5 separate regions of the Homo sapiens genome follow, and all the other regions are reported to be linked to region 1. Evidence: microRNA targets listed by miRTarBase, many of them from high-throughput screens and not tested one by one. Region 1 holds a microRNA gene; each other region holds the end of a gene's coding sequence.
What was found. The annotated mature microRNA hsa-miR-1273h-3p reads CUGCAGACUCGACCUCCCAGGC and lies in region 1 at 2,037-2,058, opposite strand. An mRNA with a match to its seed (bases 2 to 7 or 8) in the 3' UTR can be bound and repressed. Matches are read on the target gene's strand: a 7mer-m8 pairs with bases 2 to 8, a 7mer-A1 pairs with bases 2 to 7 and ends in A, and an 8mer does both.

Region 2: miRTarBase lists FBXO21 as a target of hsa-miR-1273h-3p. Seed matches in the 3' UTR shown: 7mer-m8 at 915-921.
Region 3: miRTarBase lists FLVCR2 as a target of hsa-miR-1273h-3p. Seed matches in the 3' UTR shown: 7mer-m8 at 2,283-2,289.
Region 4: miRTarBase lists AFF1 as a target of hsa-miR-1273h-3p. Seed matches in the 3' UTR shown: 7mer-m8 at 979-985.
Region 5: miRTarBase lists ARK2C as a target of hsa-miR-1273h-3p. Seed matches in the 3' UTR shown: 7mer-A1 at 3,699-3,705.

The regions. Positions count from the first base shown.
Region 1 is chr16:24,201,092-24,205,243 of GRCh38, reverse strand. MIR1273H (microRNA 1273h) reads right to left here and starts at 2,128; the gene lies at 2,013-2,128. All of the region lies in intron 16 of PRKCB (protein kinase C beta), which reads right to left.
Region 2 is chr12:117,142,654-117,146,653 of GRCh38, reverse strand. It overlaps FBXO21 (F-box protein 21), which reads left to right. Exons shown (of 12, transcript NM_015002.3): 12 at 377-4,000. The coding sequence ends at 567. Among named protein-coding and RNA genes, the nearest start is that of TESC-AS1, 45 kb to the right of the region's middle. RefSeq lists enhancers at 3,183-3,262, 2,663-3,862.
Region 3 is chr14:75,646,166-75,650,165 of GRCh38, reverse strand. FLVCR2 (FLVCR choline and putative heme transporter 2) reads right to left here. Exons shown (of 10, transcript NM_017791.3): 10 at 1,999-3,765. The coding sequence ends at 3,694. It overlaps ERG28 (ergosterol biosynthesis 28 homolog), which reads left to right. Exons shown (of 5, transcript NM_007176.4): 5 at 1-375. Among named protein-coding and RNA genes, the nearest start is that of ERG28, 13 kb to the left of the region's middle. RefSeq lists an enhancer at 1,526-1,820.
Region 4 is chr4:87,135,489-87,139,488 of GRCh38, forward strand. It overlaps AFF1 (ALF transcription elongation factor 1), which reads left to right. Exons shown (of 21, transcript NM_001166693.3): 21 at 92-4,000. The coding sequence ends at 213. Among named protein-coding and RNA genes, the nearest start is that of KLHL8, 83 kb to the right of the region's middle.
Region 5 is chr18:46,456,413-46,460,412 of GRCh38, forward strand. It overlaps ARK2C (arkadia (RNF111) C-terminal like ring finger ubiquitin ligase 2C), which reads left to right. Exons shown (of 8, transcript NM_152470.3): 8 at 107-4,000. The coding sequence ends at 224. Among named protein-coding and RNA genes, the nearest start is that of ARK2C, 120 kb to the left of the region's middle. RefSeq lists an enhancer at 1,722-2,511.

The DNA.
Region 1 (4,152 bases):
AGGAACTGGAGGCTGCAGTGAGCTATGACTGTTCCACTTCACTTCAGCCTGGGTAACAGAGTAAGACCCTGTCTCTAAAAAAAAAAAAAAAAAAAAAAGGAATTATAATAATAATTTTTTTTTTGAGATGAAGTCTCACTTTGTCGCCCAGGCTGGTGTGCAGTGGCACGATCTCGGCTCACTGCAACCTCCACCTCCCGGGTTCAAGCGATTCTCCTGCCTCAGCCTCCCAAGTAGCTGGGACTACAGGCACCCATCACCATGCCCAGCTAATTTTTGTATTTTTAGTAGAGACGGGGTTTCACTATGTTGGCTAGGCTGGTCTCGAACTCCTGACCTCGTGATCTGCACGCCTTGGCCTCCCAAAGTGCTAGGATTACAGGCATGAGCCTCTGTGCCTGGCCATAAAAAATTTTAAAACACACAAAAGAATCCTTCTTAATCCCGCCACCCCAAATCTCTGTATTATGTTAACATCTTGGTTTGTATCCTAGATGGCTGGATGAATAGATGAATGGATGTTTTTTAGTTTTTAGACAAAGGTGGAATCATGACTCTGTTCTTTTGCTTGCTTTTTAAAAGAAACTAGATGAAATACACTCTAAACATCTTCCCATGTCAACAGAATATCATTTTTTTTCTTATCTATTCTTCACCATTCATCCTAAACCCACATTGTTGGCTTCAAGTAAACTCACCCTCAAATAGTAATTATCCCTTCTATTTGCCTATCTTTTTATAGCTTTGATTCCCACAAGGCTGTGAGATAGGCAGGAAAAGGATTATCTCTACTTAACAGATAATTTTAAGAGTTAACAGTTTGTTCAGGGTCATATAGGGTCAAGTAGGAGAGCCAAGATCCAGAGCCCATCTGTTCAATTCCAAAGCCCATGGGCTTTCCATTACATCCCATTGCCTCATACTATGTATCTGATTGTGTGGCACGGACTTAAAAGTTAAGCTAACCTGGGTACCAATCCTGGCTCCAACAATTCCCAGCTATACAACCTTCAAGCAAGTTAGCTAAGTCCCCTAAGCTCAAGTTTCTTGTAGGGTGTGGCGAGAATGACTTGATAAAATTCACATCAAATACTTAACATGGTAGCTGGTGGTTACTGCTGAGGGCTGACTGACCCATTCATGTCCAGTGAGTAAGTCTGACAGGGCTGTGCTCTGGCTTGAAAGAGGTCCTGTACGCTCTGCCAAACCCTAAATTCCTACCCATATTCCCATCCCAATTACAAGCAGAATGAGGACCTGCCAGTGCTACTTTAGACATAGAACAGAAACCTTCCCACTTAGCCTGGTGCATCACGGCAGGAAGCTACAAGACAAAGCCAGGCCCTGGGGCTCCCAGTTAGAGGAAGTGAGAAAAAGACGTGTACCCTGGGAAGAAAAAGGGATGCATTTCCGTTCCCATCCAAGCCTCACTTCCTTAGAAAGACATTTCAGGTAGATTAACACACCATCTCTGTGCTGTTTTCCATATGCCATTTGGGGGGGCATTTTGTGGTTATTTTTAAGAGACTGCACTTGTAACAAAACAAAAAGTAAGCTTTCTGTTTTCCTTTCTGGGTCATGAGCTGGTCTCAACCCTCCAAATTCAACTGTCACTGGAAGTCTTTGTGGAGTTGGAATTTCTATTGGGAGTGGCTGTGAAGGTAGGAAGAACATCAGCAAATGTGGTGATATGGTTTGAATGTGTTCTCCCAAAGTTCTTGTGCTGGACACTTAATCCCCAATGCAACAGTGTTGAGAGGTGGGAACTTTTGGAGGTGACTGGATTGATGTTATTATTGTGGGAGTGAATTTATTTAAAAAGTAAGTTACCCTCCCTCATGTGTTCTCTTGCCATGTGATGCCTTCTATCAGGTTACTATGCAGCAAGAAGGTCCTCCCCAGATACAGCCCCTGATCTTGTACTTCCCACCCTCCAGAACCATGAGCCAAATAAATTTCTTTTCATTGTAAGTTATCCACTTTTTTTTTTTTGAGACAGGGTCTCACTCTGTCACTCGAGCAGGAGGATTGCTTAAGCCTGGGAGGTCGAGTCTGCAGCAAGCTGTGACCACGACACTGCAGCCTTGACCTCCCAGGCTCAAGCAATCCTGCCTTAGTCACCCAAGTAGCTGGGACTACAGGCATGTGCCACCCCACCTGGTTGATTTTTGTAATTTTTGTGTGTGTAAAGACAGATTTTGCCATGTTCCCCAAGCTGGTCTCAAACTCCTGGGCTCAAGCTCAAGTGATCTGCCCATGTTAACCTCCCAAAGTGCTGGAATTACAGGCATGAGCCACTGCACCAGGCCCCAGTTTCAGGTATTCTTATAGCAGCACAAAACAGACTAAGACAGACACACAATGTCATAAAAATGAAGGAGAAGAGGGGCTTAAAAAGAAAGAAGGCACTCTGAACTTTTCCTACAGATAAACTCACTTATATAGGAAACTAGGAAGTTATTCAAAGGGTGATGTAGAGTTAGATAAGCAGATAAGAAACAATCTCCAAGACAGAGGGGAATAATGCAAGATACAGAAATTGTACACAGCATGCTAACATCCTTGTGTGTGATGTAGACTATTTCTGGGCCTGAACACATCTTCTCTAGAAGGTCACACAAGAACCTGGTTGCAATGGGTGTCTCTGGGAAGGAGAACCAGGAAGCCTAGCTAGGAGCCATGGGTGAGGGGAATCTTAATTTCACTTTGTAGCTTCTGATGCTGCTTGAATATTTTATTTTTTCACATTTTTTTAAAGGAGAAAGGATTAGAGCACCTAATAATATGGTGAGGTCAAGAAAGATGAGACAAGCTTATGAGAAGAGGCAGTTTTCAGGTCATTGATGACTCAATGAGAAAAATATCAATAGGATGGCGGGAGCAGAAGCCAGATTGCACCAAACTGAGGAAACAATAAATTGTCATCAAGTGGAAATAGCAGGAACTGGCAACTCTTTCAAAAGTGTGTTTGTATGCAAAGTAAGGTAGGGTAGTAATCATAGCAGTAGTAAGAGTAGTAGTAAGGAGGATTCCCAGGTTTGAGGTAGGGGATTTTTAACATGAAAAAGACATAGCAGGTTTATGCACAAAGGAGAAGGCCAGGATAGAGTCAGAAAGGACAGCTGCTGTTTTTGCCCAGCCAGCAGGCATTGTCTTTTCTTCTAGTGACAGTGGCTTTATTTTTCTTTTTTTCTTTTTTTTTTTTTTTGAGACGGAGTCTCGCTCTTTTGCCCAGGCTGGACTGCAGTGGCGCTATCTCAGCTCACTGCAAGCTCCGCCTCCTGGGTTCACGCCATTCTCCTGCCTCAGCCTCCCGAGTAGCTGGGACTACAGGTGCCCGCCACCGCGCCCAGCTAATTTTTTGTATTTTTTAGTGGAGATGGGGTTTCACCGTGTTAGCCAAGATGGTCTCGATCTCCTGACCTCATGATCCACCCGCCTCAGCCTCCCAAAGTGCTGGGATTATAGGCGTGAGCCACCACACCCGGCCATGACAGTGGCTTTTTTTTCTTAAAGGAGATATTCCTTCTCTTCTTTCAAAATGTCTGATTTAGATAGGACATTCCTTCTCTTTTTTCAAAATGTCTGGATTAGATCCAGCTCTCTGGCTAAGAGGGGCTGGTGACCCAGGCCCGGTCAATCAGCACATTCCATCCCCCTGGTGCAGTGAGCAATTCCCTTAGAGATGGGCATATGACCCAATAATCTTCCAAAAAGATTGAGTCCTAGGCTGCTGGGATTTTATAAAAAGGAAGCCCTTTTCTTTGGTAGAAGTTGCAGAGATAATGGGACATAAATTGGGAGTTGCTATGTGCCCAAGAAAGCCTTCTGAGAATGAAGAATGAAGTCAACACAGTGGGGAAAGTAATCCTAAGGGATATAGATAAATGTTTCCCTGCTGGCATTGTTTGGGACCAGATGTAGATGATCCATCTACATCTGAATACTAACTATCATTATTTTTTGCTTAAAAGTCAGTTTAAATCAGATTCCTATTTGAAACCATAGGAGTTTTGTTGATACAGAGAGAAGCTGTAGACAGACTAAACAGGGGAGATAAGCATGAAGGATCAAGAGGCTGGAGTCCAGAGCAGGAGTGAGGGTAAGTCTCACATGAGTTGGGGGAGGGAAAACATATTTGCTAAGACAGAG
Region 2 (4,000 bases), not on the chromosome of region 1:
GCCACTGCCAAAAAAAGAGCAGGCAGGGATAATGTTGTCCCATTGTCCAGTCAGAGAGACCTGTTGAGTCTCTAGTTTGCCAGTCCCCAAGAGACCTTTGGAGTTTTGCTGGAGCCAGACATCCTGCTTAGAGATGAGGAAGATCCTGCTGTTCCGTGGGGAGCTCTTGAGACACCCGTGCCACCACCCACCTTCTCCTGATTGCCACTTGCTGCCCTTTTCCCATTACCCTCTCCTGACTCCATAAACATCTTCAGTCTTCCCTTCTCCACCCCAAAAATGCCACCTGGAAGGGGTGATGGGAGGTTCTCTGGATGAAAGGTGTGGCAGCAATGGACATTGTAATGAGAATGCCCGTGTGCCTCTTTACCAACAGAAAACTTGGAATATAACGTGGAGCCTCAAGAAATCTCACACCCTGACGTGGGACGCTATTTCTCAGAGTTTACTGGCACTCACTACATCCCAAACGCAGAGCTGGAGATCCGGTATCCAGAAGATCTGGAGTTTGTCTATGAAACGGTGCAGAATATTTACAGTGCAAAGAAAGAGAACATAGATGAGTAAAGTCTAGAGAGGACATTGCACCTTTGCTGCTGCTGCTATCTTCCAAGAGAACGGGACTCCGGAAGAAGACGTCTCCACGGAGCCCTCGGGACCTGCTGCACCAGGAAAGCCACTCCACCAGTAGTGCTGGTTGCCTCCTACTAAGTTTAAATACCGTGTGCTCTTCCCCAGCTGCAAAGACAATGTTGCTCTCCGCCTACACTAGTGAATTAATCTGAAAGGCACTGTGTCAGTGGCATGGCTTGTATGCTTGTCCTGTGGTGACAGTTTGTGACATTCTGTCTTCATGAGGTCTCACAGTCGACGCTCCTGTAATCATTCTTTGTATTCACTCCATTCCCCTGTCTGTCTGCATTTGTCTCAGAACATTTCCTTGGCTGGACAGATGGGGTTATGCATTTGCAATAATTTCCTTCTGATTTCTCTGTGGAACGTGTTCGGTCCCGAGTGAGGACTGTGTGTCTTTTTACCCTGAAGTTAGTTGCATATTCAGAGGTAAAGTTGTGTGCTATCTTGGCAGCATCTTAGAGATGGAGACATTAACAAGCTAATGGTAATTAGAATCATTTGAATTTATTTTTTTCTAATATGTGAAACACAGATTTCAAGTGTTTTATCTTTTTTTTTTAAATTTAAATGGGAATATAACACAGTTTTCCCTTCCATATTCCTCTCTTGAGTTTATGCACATCTCTATAAATCATTAGTTTTCTATTTTATTACATAAAATTCTTTTAGAAAATGCAAATAGTGAACTTTGTGAATGGATTTTTCCATACTCATCTACAATTCCTCCATTTTAAATGACTACTTTTATTTTTTAATTTAAAAAATCTACTTCAGTATCATGAGTAGGTCTTACATCAGTGATGGGTTCTTTTTGTAGTGAGACATACAAATCTGATGTTAATGTTTGCTCTTAGAAGTCATACTCCATGGTCTTCAAAGACCAAAAAATGAGGTTTTGCTTTTGTAATCAGGAAAAAAAAAAATTAATGAACCTTAAAAAAAAAAAAAAAGGTTTTGAAGGGAAAAAAAGTGGTTTCACACCTCTTGTTATTCCTTAGAGTCACTTCAAGGCCTGTTTGAATGTGGCAGGTTAGAAAGAGAGAGAATGTCTTTCATTTGAAGAGTGTTGGACTTGTGTGAAAGGAGATGTGCGTGTTGGAATCTGCTTTTCCAAGCCGCCAGGGTCCTGACGGCAGCAGGACGAAGCCTGTTGTGGCGTCTTCTGGGAAAGCCTGACCGTGTGTTCGGACGGCACTGGCTCCTTTCCGAAGTTCTCAGTAACTGAGCCCAGAGTAACTGCACGCCTTTGTGCAGCTCTGGAGCTCCACCAACTCTCGGCCTGCCAGTTCTCAAGCGAGCTAATCTTGTCATTAATCGATAGAAGCTAACTTCCGAAGTTAGGACCTAGTTACTTTGCTCTCAACATTTAAAATAATGCAGTTGCTCTAGTGAATGGGGCGTTAGGGGCCTGTCTCTGCACCTGTCTGTCCATCTGCATGCAGTATTCTCACCCATGTTGAATGCCTGCTGCTTGTTTACCCTTTGGAAACCCTGGGGTGACCAAGGTTTGGAAAGCCACCTGAGACCACTTCATAGCAAGGGAAGGCTTTAAGCAGTTACTAGAAAGAGATGGGGATTTGGCCCCTGGCTCCTCCAGCCTGAATGAGCTATTTAATCCACTGTCCATGTTCCTCATCAGTCAAATCCAAAGTCAAAGGATTTGAACCTGCATCTGGAAACGTAACCACTCACAGCACCTGGCCCGCCAAGGTTGGGAGGATTGTACACTACTTTCATTTAAAGGGGAAAGTTTGATAATACGGAATTAATTAATATGAATGAGATGCATTAATAAGAACCTGAGCATGCTGAGAGTTGCAATTGTTGGTTTTCTGGTTTGATTGATTTCCTTTTTTCTTAGACACATCAAAGTCAAGAAAGATGGTTTTACCTTTACTGACCCAGCTGTACATATGTATCTAGACTGTTTTTAAATGTCTTTCTTCATGAATGCTTCATGGGGCTCCAGGAAGCCTGTATCACCTGTGTAAGTTGGTATTTGGGCACTTTATATTTTTCTAAAAACGTGTTTTGGATCCTGTACTCTAATAAATCATAAGTTTCTTTTTAAAAATTTTCCAAAACTTTTCTCCATTTTAAAAAGCCCTGTTATAAACGTTGAACTTTCACAATGTTAAAATGTTAAATATTTGGATATAGCAACTTCTTTTCTCTTCAAATGAATGCCAAGATTTTTTTGTACAATGATTAATAAATGGAACTTATCCAGAGAAACCACGCAAATGGCCTGCCCAATTTCGTTTGAGGACAGAAAGCCCAGCCATGACTTGAGTAGAATGTCTCTCACCTCTCTTCGGATCTAAATATGAAAAGTATGTTCTGCTGAATTTTTCTGAGCATTGGTGAGCGGACAGCCTACCTGTAAACCATGACCTCCTTGCCAAACGTTAATTTTATCAGCTCACTAGTAACCTTTGAGAATTATCTGGTTGTCATGCAAAGATTGCACTTTCTGAATTATGTTAAAACACATGTTGTAAAATGAGAACTGCTCATGCTTTGAAAGAAAACCAGGTTCTTCGTGCGTTCTGTTGCCGTTGATTTGAATGGCTGTGCTGTATACGATGTGTCCAGAATGTCTTCAGAGCACTGTTTCCGTGTGATGTTACTACCTACTATGTGGGAGGAAAAAAGGTTATAGGTTAAACAAAGTCAATTGACTCTATGGTGGTGTTTCTCAATACCTGTGACGCACAGTACTGTGCGTCGTGACTTTCTAAGAGAAGTGTGCAGCGGGTGTGTCATCTTGATATATGAAACCCTGGAATTTCCCTCCCCTACACGCACGCACCGTCCCCGGGGGTCCGGTGTTTGCAGACATGCTTTGAAAAGCTGTCTCAGTGAGACATCAGTTATGTCCAAAATGAGTTTACCTTAGAATCAGACCGGTTTTGCCAGGCGTCATGTTTGCAAACATTATCCACCTAATCAGATTTTGAAAGGCCGGCTTTCATGTCGCCTGCCTGAGACTCATAACAGATCCCCATTATAAGCGCGTTTACACAGCAAAATGATTTTATTGAGAAAACCAGCATTAAGTACTGTTGCCGGCTCAGTTTTCCATTGCATACTATCTACTTAAAGTCCCGTTCTCATTTGTAAGTGTTCCGATCTTTCCCCACGGAGAAAACTGAGCAGAGCTGCCGTGTCGCAGGCTTTCTGCTGCTGATGTCGCATCTCTTTGCTTTCCCCTCCTTAGTCCATACTCCAAGTAAGTGAACTCAGACTACCAGCAACTTTTTAACTGAAAAGTATCTGTCCATGATGATCAAGATGCAGCTCTTCGTGTTTTTATTTTGTCTTTTTTTTTTTTTTTTTTTTTTGGAGGGAAGGAGAGACATCA
Region 3 (4,000 bases), not on the chromosome of region 1:
GATTTTTTTGTTTTTTAGAGACAGGGTTTCACTCTGTCACCCAGGCTGGAGTGCAGTGGCACAATCACACCTCACTGCAGCCTCAACTTCCTGGGCTCAAGTGATCCTCCTGCATCAGCTTCCCAAGTAGCTGGGACTACAAGTGTGTACCACCACATCCAGCTAACATTTTTGGGGGTGGGAAGAGATGGGGTCTTACTATGTTGTCCAGGCTAAGAGGTGGGATTTGAGCTGAGACTTGAATGCCCAGGAGTTAAATGTCTTAAGATATGGAGCAGGCCGTTAGAAAGGAGGGAGCAGCAACTGGAAGGTAGAATAGTCTTATTCAAGGAATAAGAACTATGTAATCACAGCATGGTGAAGAGTTAGGAAGTGAAAGAAAAGGTCAGAAAAGGAGGCAAGGGGCTTATAAGGGTGTGATAAGAAGCTTGATGTTTACACTTAAATACATTGGGAATTCTCTTATCAGTTAAGTCTCTTTAGGTGAAAGGACAAAACCTACCTTAAACTAGCTTAAACAATAAAGATAGCTGGCTCATATAACTGAAAAATTACAAGATTAGCTTCAGGAAGGGTTTGATCAAGACTCCAGCTCCATTTCTTTACGATTCTTTCAGCACTACCTATGTGTGCTGGCATCCTCAGGCTGACTTCTTTTATGGTACCAAAGTTGGTTGCAGAAATTCCAGGCCTCATATGCCCAGAACACTGTATCTAGAAAAATATCTCAATGGTAAGAACTATCTTTTCTTTACTTGTCAGCTATATTGTTAGGAGGCAGTAAAAAAGCAGTGATGACAGTTAATGTTTGAACACAGATCCACATGAAGACCTTATGAAAGGAGTGAATGAAAACATTGGATGATTTAGGTCCTCTGAGCATGTGTCATGAAAATGTGATGCCCTGGCCGGGTGTGGTGGCTCACGCCTGTAATCCCAGCACTTTTGGGAGGCTGACACGGGCAGATCATGAGGTCAAAAGATCGAGACCATCCTGGCCAACATGGTGAAACCCCGTCTCTACTAAAAGTACAAAAATTAGCTGGGCATGGTGGCGTGTGCCTGTAGTCCCAGCTACTTGGGAGGCTGAGACAGGAGAATTGCTTGAACCAGGAAGGCGGAGGTTGCAGTGAGCCGAGATTGCGCCATTGCACTCCAGCCTGGCGACAGAAAAAGACACCATCTCAAAAAAAAAAAAAAAAAAAAAAGTGATTCCAGATTAGTAAAGGCAGGGACCCAAAGGATCTAAAGAGATGTACAGTTAGAGTATTTAGCAGACACTATGGATATTAGATTTCTTAACAGCCCAGGCTTGGGTCCCTTCCTAGATCATTTAAAATAGAATCATAATATTGTTCCTCCCCAGCTACGAGTTGCTATAAATATGATGCTAGAATACCACAGGCACAGTACAACTCTCTATGGAAAGAATGTACAGAACACAGATGATAGTAGCAGCATATTCAAGTAACACGCACAAGGTGATCACAACTGGGGAGGGATGAGTAACAGGACGTTGGCCAGTTAGGAAGAAAAATGGTAACGCAAGACTGCAGCTGCTGGGACTGAGCCATGGGCCCCAGCCACAGCAAGCTGATGCATGGCTGAGGTAATCAGAGAACAAACATTTCAACCACCCTTTGAGGCAGAGCCAGAAACAACAGTGGACTCTCTCATCAGCAGTCACTCACATTCCAGCGCGTACACAGCATGGAAAGAGGTCAGGGTCGTGCTGGATGTTGAGTTGCAGTCCCTCCATGTAGGCAAACAGTAACCTTTACAGCCTTGTCTTTAAAAAATATCCCTCCCAGATGGTAAGGTCTGGCAACAGTGAGATGCTCCTGTGGAAGACCACAGTTGCTGCTTCTCTAGCCTCACACTCCCCCGCCCCAGCCCAGCCCTTCCCCACACCTAAGACAGGAGCCTCAGGAATGTGTGACAGTCTTGCAGGGACTTCTAAGAGCCATCTCTGCCCCACTGAATGATAAGGCAGACCACTTTCTGAGAAGTTTTTATTGCCTCGAAATGTCAGATCTTACAAATAGAAAACACAAATTATGTTTTTAAAATAAAGCAATAGGTTTGGTAAACATTTTGTTAATACCTTTTGAAGGGTTTATGAGTAAACATCTTTCTCTTTATCAAAAAGTAAAGCACACCCTCACCTCTCTTCCACACTGACTCACTACTTCTGCCGAAAACGTGGACTTCTTTCTTCTATTACATACAGCATGTTCCTTGCATCCATTGCTTGAATCTGTACAAACACACACACACACACATGCAGACACACACAAACCTGGCTCCTCTCAGGCAGTGGCCCAAGCACCACAGTATTGCAGCCAGCACAGGCTGCCCTGATATGCTGAGGCCAGGGCAGTGGCTGGAGCAAGACAGCACAGTGGTCACGATCACAGTTGCCCAATGCATAGGAAAAATTACCAAAACCTCATTTTTAGGAGATATTACCAAAGCCCATGAGTACAGCCAAACAGCAGGCTAGATAGGAAAGATCAGCTTGAGTTGGTTTAAAGGGAATCCCTTTAAGTTTAGAATATCTGATAAAGATTATCGCTCAAAGCAGGTGAGGAGAGGGGTTGGTGGTGCAAATACTGTCCCCAGCAGAGGTGAGATAAGCTTTTAATTCTAACAGGCTCAATTCCCATTTCAAGGGGCACCTTTCCTTCTACCCCTTCCCTCTTATCTCTCAGAAGCACCTTTGGATTTTCAGAGTAGAATGAATCAAGATTAGTTTTCAGCAAAGGTTAGAGTAAGTTGACGGGGATTACCCTGCCTTGGAATAAAACAAGCACTTGGGCTGATGGCTGAGATTCCCAATGCAACATCAAGATAAAGGCATCAGAGGTGACTGTGACACACAGAAGTCCCTGGGGAAGTACTTCTGTAAAAAAGAACCTTCCCATTCCCAACTCAAGCTACCAGAGTTCCCAAATATGTGCTTTCACAAATATACTCAGAAGGTAGCCCCCAGCATGATCACACCTAGGTAGGTAGCCCTCCTGAGTCGGTATCTCTGTCATGGCCACAACAAAGTCTTTTGTCAAGTTTATTATGGTTGGTTTGCTCAGCTCTTAGGAAAGAGGGTTTGGAGACAGACCCGTTAGGCCAGGAAAATTTAGGCCCACAAGTCCCGGTGGAGCTGTTCTGATGGAGTTGTTCTAATGGTGCTTCCTCTCCTGCAGAACTTGAGCAATCAGTCCGATGACCCAGGAGATGACCCCGGCAGAGCAGCTTGCCACTTATTAGAACTGGGCTTCATGAGAGGCTCTTAGGACACTGGAAATTTCAAGTTAATATCCTGAATAGGCTTTCTTCCTGTGAAAATTTTGCAGGCATTGTCCACGATGGATGGAGGAAAAGAGGGAAGGCAAGAGACCAAGCTAGGATTGACTCCAATATTCTCTGCCACCCTGTCCCAACACCAACTCCCATAACCTAAAAGGGGGTGGAGGTGGGAATCAAATTTGCATTTGGTGATAGGTGCAATTTTCTCCAACTAAATCATCCAAGCTCTTACGTGGGTTCTAGGAGGAATAGGCCATCCATGCCACAAATAGTCCCACTGATTCCCTCCAAAAACATCTCTAGCGAAGCCCTTTGTGCTGGCGGTGAGAGCTGTGCTGAAGGAAAAGGTGGGGTGTTCGTGTTCCCTGAGTTGTCACCACCTTCCTCTCAGAGATGATCCTCTGACACAGCAGTGGGCACTTTGCTGGTGTTGCTCTCCTCCTCCTCCTCTTGGAGTTTCTATAAAGCAAAACAAACAGGCAGTGCTGTGGGTAAAGGCACAGCACTCCACCCTGGCTGGAGCAGCTGCCTGGCCATGACTAATCAGTGGGGAATACAAGAGCCGGGGGCCACTCAGCATCCCAGAGAGCCAAGAAAGAGAACAAGAAAAGAAGCAACCAGCCCCTGCCATAAATGCACCCACAAACACACACCACCCAACATCATGAGGTCATCAGAGGGAAAAAGGGGCAAG
Region 4 (4,000 bases), not on the chromosome of region 1:
CCTTCTGGAACCTTGAATTTTTGTTTCCATTTTAATTTTTGTGTGTGCTTGTGTATTTACTTGTTTTTGTTTTGTTTTGTTTTTTTTGCAGAATTCTTTGCTCGGCTCAGCACAAATGTGTGCACCTTGGCCCTCAACAGCAGTTTGGTGGACCTGGTGCACTATACACGACAGGGTTTTCAGCAGCTACAAGAATTAACCAAAACACCTTAATGGAGCCCCAGGTTGATTCAATGCCTTGGGAACTATTTTTGCACATTGGAAGCCTCAAAAACAGTCCAGACATTTGTTTCATCAGGACACCAAACTCTAAAAAAGAAGCACCACGAGATGGCCAGGACATTTGTCCACTTAAACTCTCAACAACAGTGTGATCATTGGTTGGACACTGTGGTTATGCAGAAGCAGAGATGAGGAGGCTGGCCCCAGAGATGATCTTGCCCTTCCTAACTAAAGGACAGAAGTGCAATTTAGCTTAAATGGGTGTATGAATGGTCTAGAAACATTTCTATTTTTTTTTTAAACCAGCAGGATACAAGTTGCAAATGAAATGAGGAGAAACAGTTTCAACTCTGAAAGTGAATTTCACGTCATCTCAGTAGCCACGCTAGTCCATTCCCAGAAGGAAATTTTTTTTTTTAACAATGACTTTTGGTAAAGGGTTTTGTGGATGATTTTTTTTCTTTTGAGTTTTGGGAGAAATATTTGTTTAGTAACTTCTAATGGCCATCTGTAAACCATAAGTAATGAAGGACTCCACTGTGCCCCACTTTCTGCCAATGAACAGTGGCTTGATAATACCAAGTATTGTTGTAATTTATAAAATTGAAGGCAACCCCCGCTCCTGCCGCCCCCAATCTCCCCATTGCCTAGAGCGCTGCACATTGACCCCAGCTCTGACTTCTCATTACTGTGCTGAAAGTCAGCCCACGTCGGAGCGGTGAGGAGGAGCCACAGCACATGGGGTGCCACCTCGAGGTCTGCACAGGAGGACTTGGCGCTGCCATTTCCTACCCCTGCCATTTCCCACCCCTGCTTCAGCGAAAGGGACTCTCTAACAGGGCAGTCACTGTTGACTCTATTCTGAATTTCCTCCCTTGGGGAAGAAGGGAACCAACATTTATACCTGACCAGATGGCTAAAGTGCTTTTAAAGTTTTGTTTAAGTAGAGCTGGAATTTGAGGTGCTGATCTGTGGTCTACAGTTATGTGGTAACTCATGTTGTCCAGCCAACTCAGAGTTTCGTCAGTGAACAAGAAACATGAAATCTGCTTCTTAGAGAGGCTATATTTTTCTGCTACAAATATTTTATATTTATAGCAAAACTAGACTTTCAGAGTCCTTGATTGTCTAGGGGAAGTTAACTCCCTGAGAGGATGTAGAGATTTGGGGTGGTTGATTAGACTTTTGAAAAACTCATCACCACATGCCTTCACTCCAGAGTGTTCTCAGCTAGATTTGATTTGGTTGAGGAGGAACTGTGGCCCTCCGTAAGTTATTGCCATAGTGTATGCATTAAACCAAGTCCATTTTGAATGACCTAAAATGAAGTAACACAATCAGAAATCCCATGTGCCCATAAGCACAGATTTTTCTTTTTCATTGAAACTTTAAAGGTTATTATTGGAAACATTACTTTGAGTGCAGTGTTTTTAAAAGCCAATTCTTTTTTATCCCTTTTAGAAGTAGAATTTGCACACTTACTACAATTGAGGAGTGTCATCTCTATAACTTTTTCTCCGCCTTTGTCCCATTCTGCCCCTGTACATGTTTCCTACCAAGCATGTTTCACATTTTCCTATTAGTGGAGGAGGGAGAACCATATTTATTTATAATGAAGACATCTAAGATCCCTATGATGAATGCAGGAACTCTCTTGGTAGTTTGTAAATACACAAAGGGATGTGTCGAGGGATGGGAGCGATGCTTATCTCTCACAGTGTGAGTGGTCTGTGTGAGGCTGTTCCTTCAGTTTCTTCTCCAGACTGTTCTTTGGTTGTCACTAAGTCAGAGGTCTGGTCCCTCATGTTTAGGTGAAAGCCAGAGAATGACAGCTGTAGTCATATCTGAGCATAAGACCTTGATGTGTGATTCCTGATGACCGGTTTCATTTATTCATGTTATAAAGCAAAGCCCTGGTCCTTTTTAAACTACTAGTTTTAAAAACCTGTGTTAAATGAACAGTAATTGCCTGGTAGGTTTGGTGTGTGTGTAGCATTGTGTGTCCATCTGTTATATGTAAAGGACAAGGCACCAGAATCAGGCTTTATTTCGATATTGAAGATGTTATTTAACATCTTTCTTTTTTCCTTACTCCCTTAGCCATCCCCTCCCCTTTTGTCCTATCATTCCCTAGAACAAGCCACCTGTCAATTGTGAAGGGTTGTGTTCTTTATGGCAGGTTCTATGCAGATTGTGCCAGAGCATGTGCGTGTTCTGTTGGCAAGCCACAGTGCTCCCTTGACTGAAGACATTTCCAGGTAGATTTCTCAGCCAGCTCTAAAACAGATTGCTTTTTCAGTGGCCTTACTCTTTGTGGGTTTTTTTTTTTTTCTCTGAACTTGATATAAAGATTTTATTTGTCCCTTGAAAAAGTAACAAATGTGCATAGATCAATTTGTACTACTTTGGTCATTGGATATTTCTGATCCTTATTGCATTGTACCTAAAGGAGAGTAACTAATGGTAACCTTTTTAATAGAGTATGTGAAAGGTAGTGGCTGATGAATCCTTAACGTTCATAGGGTCTTTTTGCTGTTACGGTTGTATATAGAGGTCTGAAGGATTTTTAAAATGATTTGCACTTTTTCACTGCATGCTTACAATTCCCAAAGGCAAAATCTGTACTGAGGTAGATCATTTGAAAGGGCTAGATTATAAAATTAAGCCTTAGAGTATGGAAAGTTCTTATAACAATAATAGTACACACTTCAGAGTAAGACAAATGCAAAGCATCTTAAGGAGTGAAAATAGAGTGTAAATCTTGCCTTTGGCACTACAAGGTGTGTGTGTGTGTGTGTGTGTGTGTGTGTGTCTTTAGTAGGAAATGGAAGAACACTGTTTTATTTTTTAAAGTGTTTAATGTTTCTGTCCTTTCTGTGAATTATTGAATTTAAGAGCCCTGCTAAATAATGAAAAAACACTTTACTAAAATTTATCAAATTATACTGGGTTCGGATTGTGAAAACATTGGCCACCTAGTAGCAGTGGTGAGGAGTGGGAGGGCCCAGCAAGCATTTATCAGAAATAGAATCACAATAGGAGGAGAATTTGACTGTCTGATATTATGATTTGATTACAATACTGAATGGGAAAAGTATCTAATATTTTGTAACAAAAAGACCTTCATATTATCTGTTTTGACCAAAATATGTAGCTATTTCCCTTACACAGATTGGACCGCACTTATCTCCCTTGTCCTGTATCCTTTAATTTCAGGTCTCAGGATGTTTAGAAAGCTAAAACCCCCTACCCCTTTCTGGCTGAAAACTTGCCTTATTTGGTATCTTACACATTAATGTTACTAGCATCAGGAGCTTACTGTTTTATTATGATTCATCTTCAGTAATTTTTAGAAGCAAGAAGAAAGCCATTGTGTCCTCTACAATTAACAAAACTTATCTCTGATATACAAAGGGATATAAATATATACACTTAAATAGAGAAAAAGAGGTTGATTGAATTGTGCCTTTGAGTGAACCCAGTTTTTAAATACCGCTGTGTTTGTTTCGCCATGGCTTCAGGGATGCTACATGGCTCTTGCACCTTTTACTCCTCTGCTTTATGAAGTTTGAGTTGTATTTGTGCATCTTAAAGTAGGTTGAGGCTTGAGGCTGGGCTTTCGGGTTTTTTTGTTTTTTGTTTTGTTTTGTTTTGTTTTGTTTTCTTGTACTTAAACCTGCTTGCTTCCTACCACAGATTCTTTATTTTCCCAAACACTACAAAAAAACTTTTAAAACTTTGCCATTTCATCTGTTTACACTCTTTGCCACTGATTAGC
Region 5 (4,000 bases), not on the chromosome of region 1:
CCCTCCATAGCCGGGCAGTTCCCCAGGAGTCCTAGGTGTGTGTCCCTGCTCCGCTCAGTGTCCCTCAGCTCTTGCCGGGCCTCTGACTCTCCCTCCTCTCTTCCAGACGCCTACCCTGTATGCATCTCTTTCACCAACTGTGCGTGGACCAGTGGCTCGCCATGAGCAAGAAATGCCCCATCTGCCGAGTGGACATTGAGACACAACTGGGAGCCGACAGCTGAGGGAGGAATTAGCCAGTGGACACCCCATTTCCTTCACCAGGTCCCCCCACGGCCATAGCCCTTGCAGCCAAACTTTGCCTTCTGAGCCATTTGACGTAGAGGAAAAGCCTGCAAGCACATTTTGTGGAAAGAGGAGTTGGTGGTATCGGTGTCGAGGGAGAGGAGGGGGTTGGGGAGGACCCACCTCTCCAGAATGGCGACTGTCCCCATCCGCCTGGCTGAGCAGGAGAGAGGGAGCTGGCGGTGCCCAGCGCAAGGGCGGGAAGGAGGGGCCCAGGCTGCGGAGAACCCAGGTGGGATCCTGAAGGCACTAGCTGACAGACGGGCCCCTCAATCCTGTCCTCTGAAGGATTGTATATATACCTCTCGACCACGTAGGAACCATGTAGGGGTCTCTAGCTATTTCTGTGGATGGCAGCCGGAGCATGTTAGCTTAAGAAAAATGTTGTGTGTGGTGCTCTAGTCATCTTGTGGTGGACATGTCGCTATTACCGAATTCGCACCAAATATTTCTCATTGAGTTTCTTGTTTTGGTGCCTGACCGAACCAACGACAGCCCCAATCTTCCCGTCTTTATGAGAGAAAAGGAAAAAGGAATCAAAGGTGGAAGAAAAAAAAAGCCAAATTCTGTTTACGGTGAAAAAGGATTTTGTTTTTCACCCAATTTGGGAGGCGGGAGGGGGGGGTTCTCGTTTTATTTTTGTTTTTGTTTTTACCTTGGCTTTTGTTTTTCTCATGTTTACAGTGCACGGAGTGTGGAAGGGGGTCTAGGAGAGGGAGAGCTGGAAAAGGAGCTGATGGGGTCTTATCCTGGCCTCTGAGGGTTCAGCGGAGGTGAGGAAGGCAGCAGAGCTCCAGCAGGTGAAGGGAGAGTTCATCTAGGCGGGGCTCCCCAGGCCCAGGGCTCAACTTCATGGCCCCAGCTATATCCCCCCAGTTCCACACTAAACCAGGGAGGGCTCGGCCCTCAGCTACTGGTACCCAATGTGTTCCTGGGAGCCGAGAGACCCATGGTCACTCCAACTCCTTCCTTTAGGCTGTGCTCTTGCCTGTCACAAAGAGGCAACGTAGCCACTGCCTCCCTATGCAAAAAATTAACCAGATGATGCAGATAAGACAGCATAGGTGATGGCTGCTTGGTCTTGGCCACAGTGCTCTCAGCCAGCACTAAGGGCTGAGGTCAATACCGCAGACCTTGGGGAGGAAGCTGAGCATCCCCCGGGATGTCTCCAGTCCTGACACAGTCCCTCAGAGATGGCCCTGGCTCTGAGGTCACATCAGCTAGGTTTGGGAGGCCCCTCAGCTTGGTTTGGGAGTGCCCGTGTTCCTGGTCTCTGGCTGCTTCTCTGACTCTTTGATAACCTTGGGCAAGTCCCTTTCTTTCTCTGTGCCTCAGTTTCCTTCTCCTTTGAGGGGGGAGAGAGAACAGTGCAGCCCCATTTCCGGTCCTGCTACCTCACCTAGATGTTGTGAGGATTCATATTCTCTGTCCAGCGTGTTCTATGCTCTCTTCTGAGAACCTTGTGGGGTGTCGGGATGGGGGTGCTGGGAGACACAGACCTGATACAGTATGTCTTTCTGCACCACCTCACAATTTTCCTGAACCCCAAAGGGAGCAGAGAGATAAGAGGACAGAAGAATGGAGATGGGAAAATCCACCAAATTCCAACCCAAACCCAACTTTCTTTCTCCCTATGTGGAAGACACCAGATTAGCTGGAATTCTGCCACCTTCCTTTGTGCCCCACCCCCCACTGTTCCCTCATTTGCACTGCTCTGTAAGCCTCCCCCTCACCTCCATTCATAACCCAGTCTCAATGCCCTCGTATCAATAAGACCGGGGTAAGGGGGACAGGATACTTGTCACATATTTGAAGAAATTCCATACAGTGAAGGAAATTTGAGTCTGTATTGCTGCTACAAGGGTAAAACCAGGACCAATGGGTAAAAGTAACAGGCGGGCAGATTTTGGCTTGAGGAAGAGCTTCTAGCACGACTGGTTCATGCGGGAATAGCTGCTCTGGCCACCTGCAGGCAGAAAGTGGGGGAAGTGGCTCCTGGCAGGAGATTTCTCCCAGCACTAATATCCTGGTGTTCTATAAAATCTTTATTGAGTGCCTACCGGTGCAGGCGCTGGGAGAGACAATAGCTTTGAGGAGCTCACAATCTAGCTGAGGAGACAAGACACATCCAATGCTGCAAAAATGGTGAATAACCTGATTCAGGGTTAGCAGCAATGAGTATCACAGCGTCCAACTCAGTAGCTCCAGTGTATGAAAATGTCTCCAGGGCTAAAGGCTGGAGATCTCACCAGTGGGGAAAGTACATCTGAGTCAGGATTTTGGGGGAAAGCTAGTTACTGATAGCCACAGGAAGTTGAGACTTCTGCCCCATTCTCTCCAATGGCTGGGTGAAAACCAAGAATTCATCGGAAGATGGCTTTGGCCTGGAGGTAGCTAGGGTGGTCTAGGAAGCTCACTCCTCTCTTAGTCTCAGTCTTTCATTCTTTCTGCTGAGACTGGCCTGAAAGGCTGGCAAGTGGGAGGGAGTCAGTGGGGAGGCCAGGATAGAACTAGAGCTGGTGTCCCAGGTTCCAGTCTGGGCTCTTCACTGACAAAGTGGGCAACACTAGAAACTTCCCTTTGTCTCTCTGGGCCTTAGTTTCCTCAGTTACAACCTAAGGAGGTTGGATTGGATGCTTGCTAATTTCCTTCTGACACTCACACTCCCTAACATCAACACATCTTCAAGGCGGCAGAGCTGTGCGCCCACCCAGCTATTGAAAAGGACTTTCTGTGGGCACACACTCTGTTTCAGACTGGGCTGGGGGCACACGTGCTGGGTGAGACAGTGGGCCCTCGTCCCCTCCCCCCTCCCAATTCTCTGCCCCAGGCTAATATTAGGGACTGGGGAGGGGACCACCAGAGGGGAGAGGGAAGCTGCTTACTTTGGGGGTAGACCCTGAAGCCCCTCCTCCTTCCCCCACAGATGGGGACAGGAGGTGATGGGGTGCTCAGAACCCTGCAGCTCCCACTTCTTTAGCCGGGCAGCTGTTTGGGGGACAAGAGAGGGCCAGGGTCTGTGCTTCTGCTCCCGGCACTGGTCAGGGAGTCTGGGAAGAGTGGAGAAGAGGCAGGGTCAGGCCTCAGCATCTCACATCCACCACCTCCAGGAGGGGAGACCACTGGTAAGTCCTCCTCCTGCTCAACTCAAGGGACTCAGACCCTTTCTTGACTGAGACGCATGAGTGCCTTCTGGGGTGAGAGCAGCCCCAGGGTTTAAGTTGGGCGTCCTAGCAGCTGCAGCAGCTGTGCCGCCGCGGGTCCACCGAGGACGCCAATCAATCAACCCAACACCACAAGCTTGGTTGGGTGCAAGCAGAGGGTGAGCAGGGGCTGCCCCTCCACCTGGCCAGGACCCCCTTCGGCACCCAGTTGCCCTTGGCCACCACCTGTGGCAGGACTCAAGCTCCTCTTCTGCAAATGTTCCCAGCCTCCGTGCAAGTATTCTTAACTCTTTACGCCTAATGAACAAGCACAGTTTTTCAATGGTGAAGAAAAAAGCACCAGACTTTTTTTCTTTTTTTCCTAAAGAAATCCCCTAAGCCCCCCGCCTGTAGGCGGGACAAACACTCCCTGCGTGGGGCTGTAGCAACGTCTGTCAGGCCCCCTTGTGTTTCATCTCCTGCGCGCGTAGAGCAAATGCTAGAGCGATTTCAGCTGATAGAAAAACAAAAATGAAAAAAAAAACACAAAAAACAAAAAACATGGCACGTTG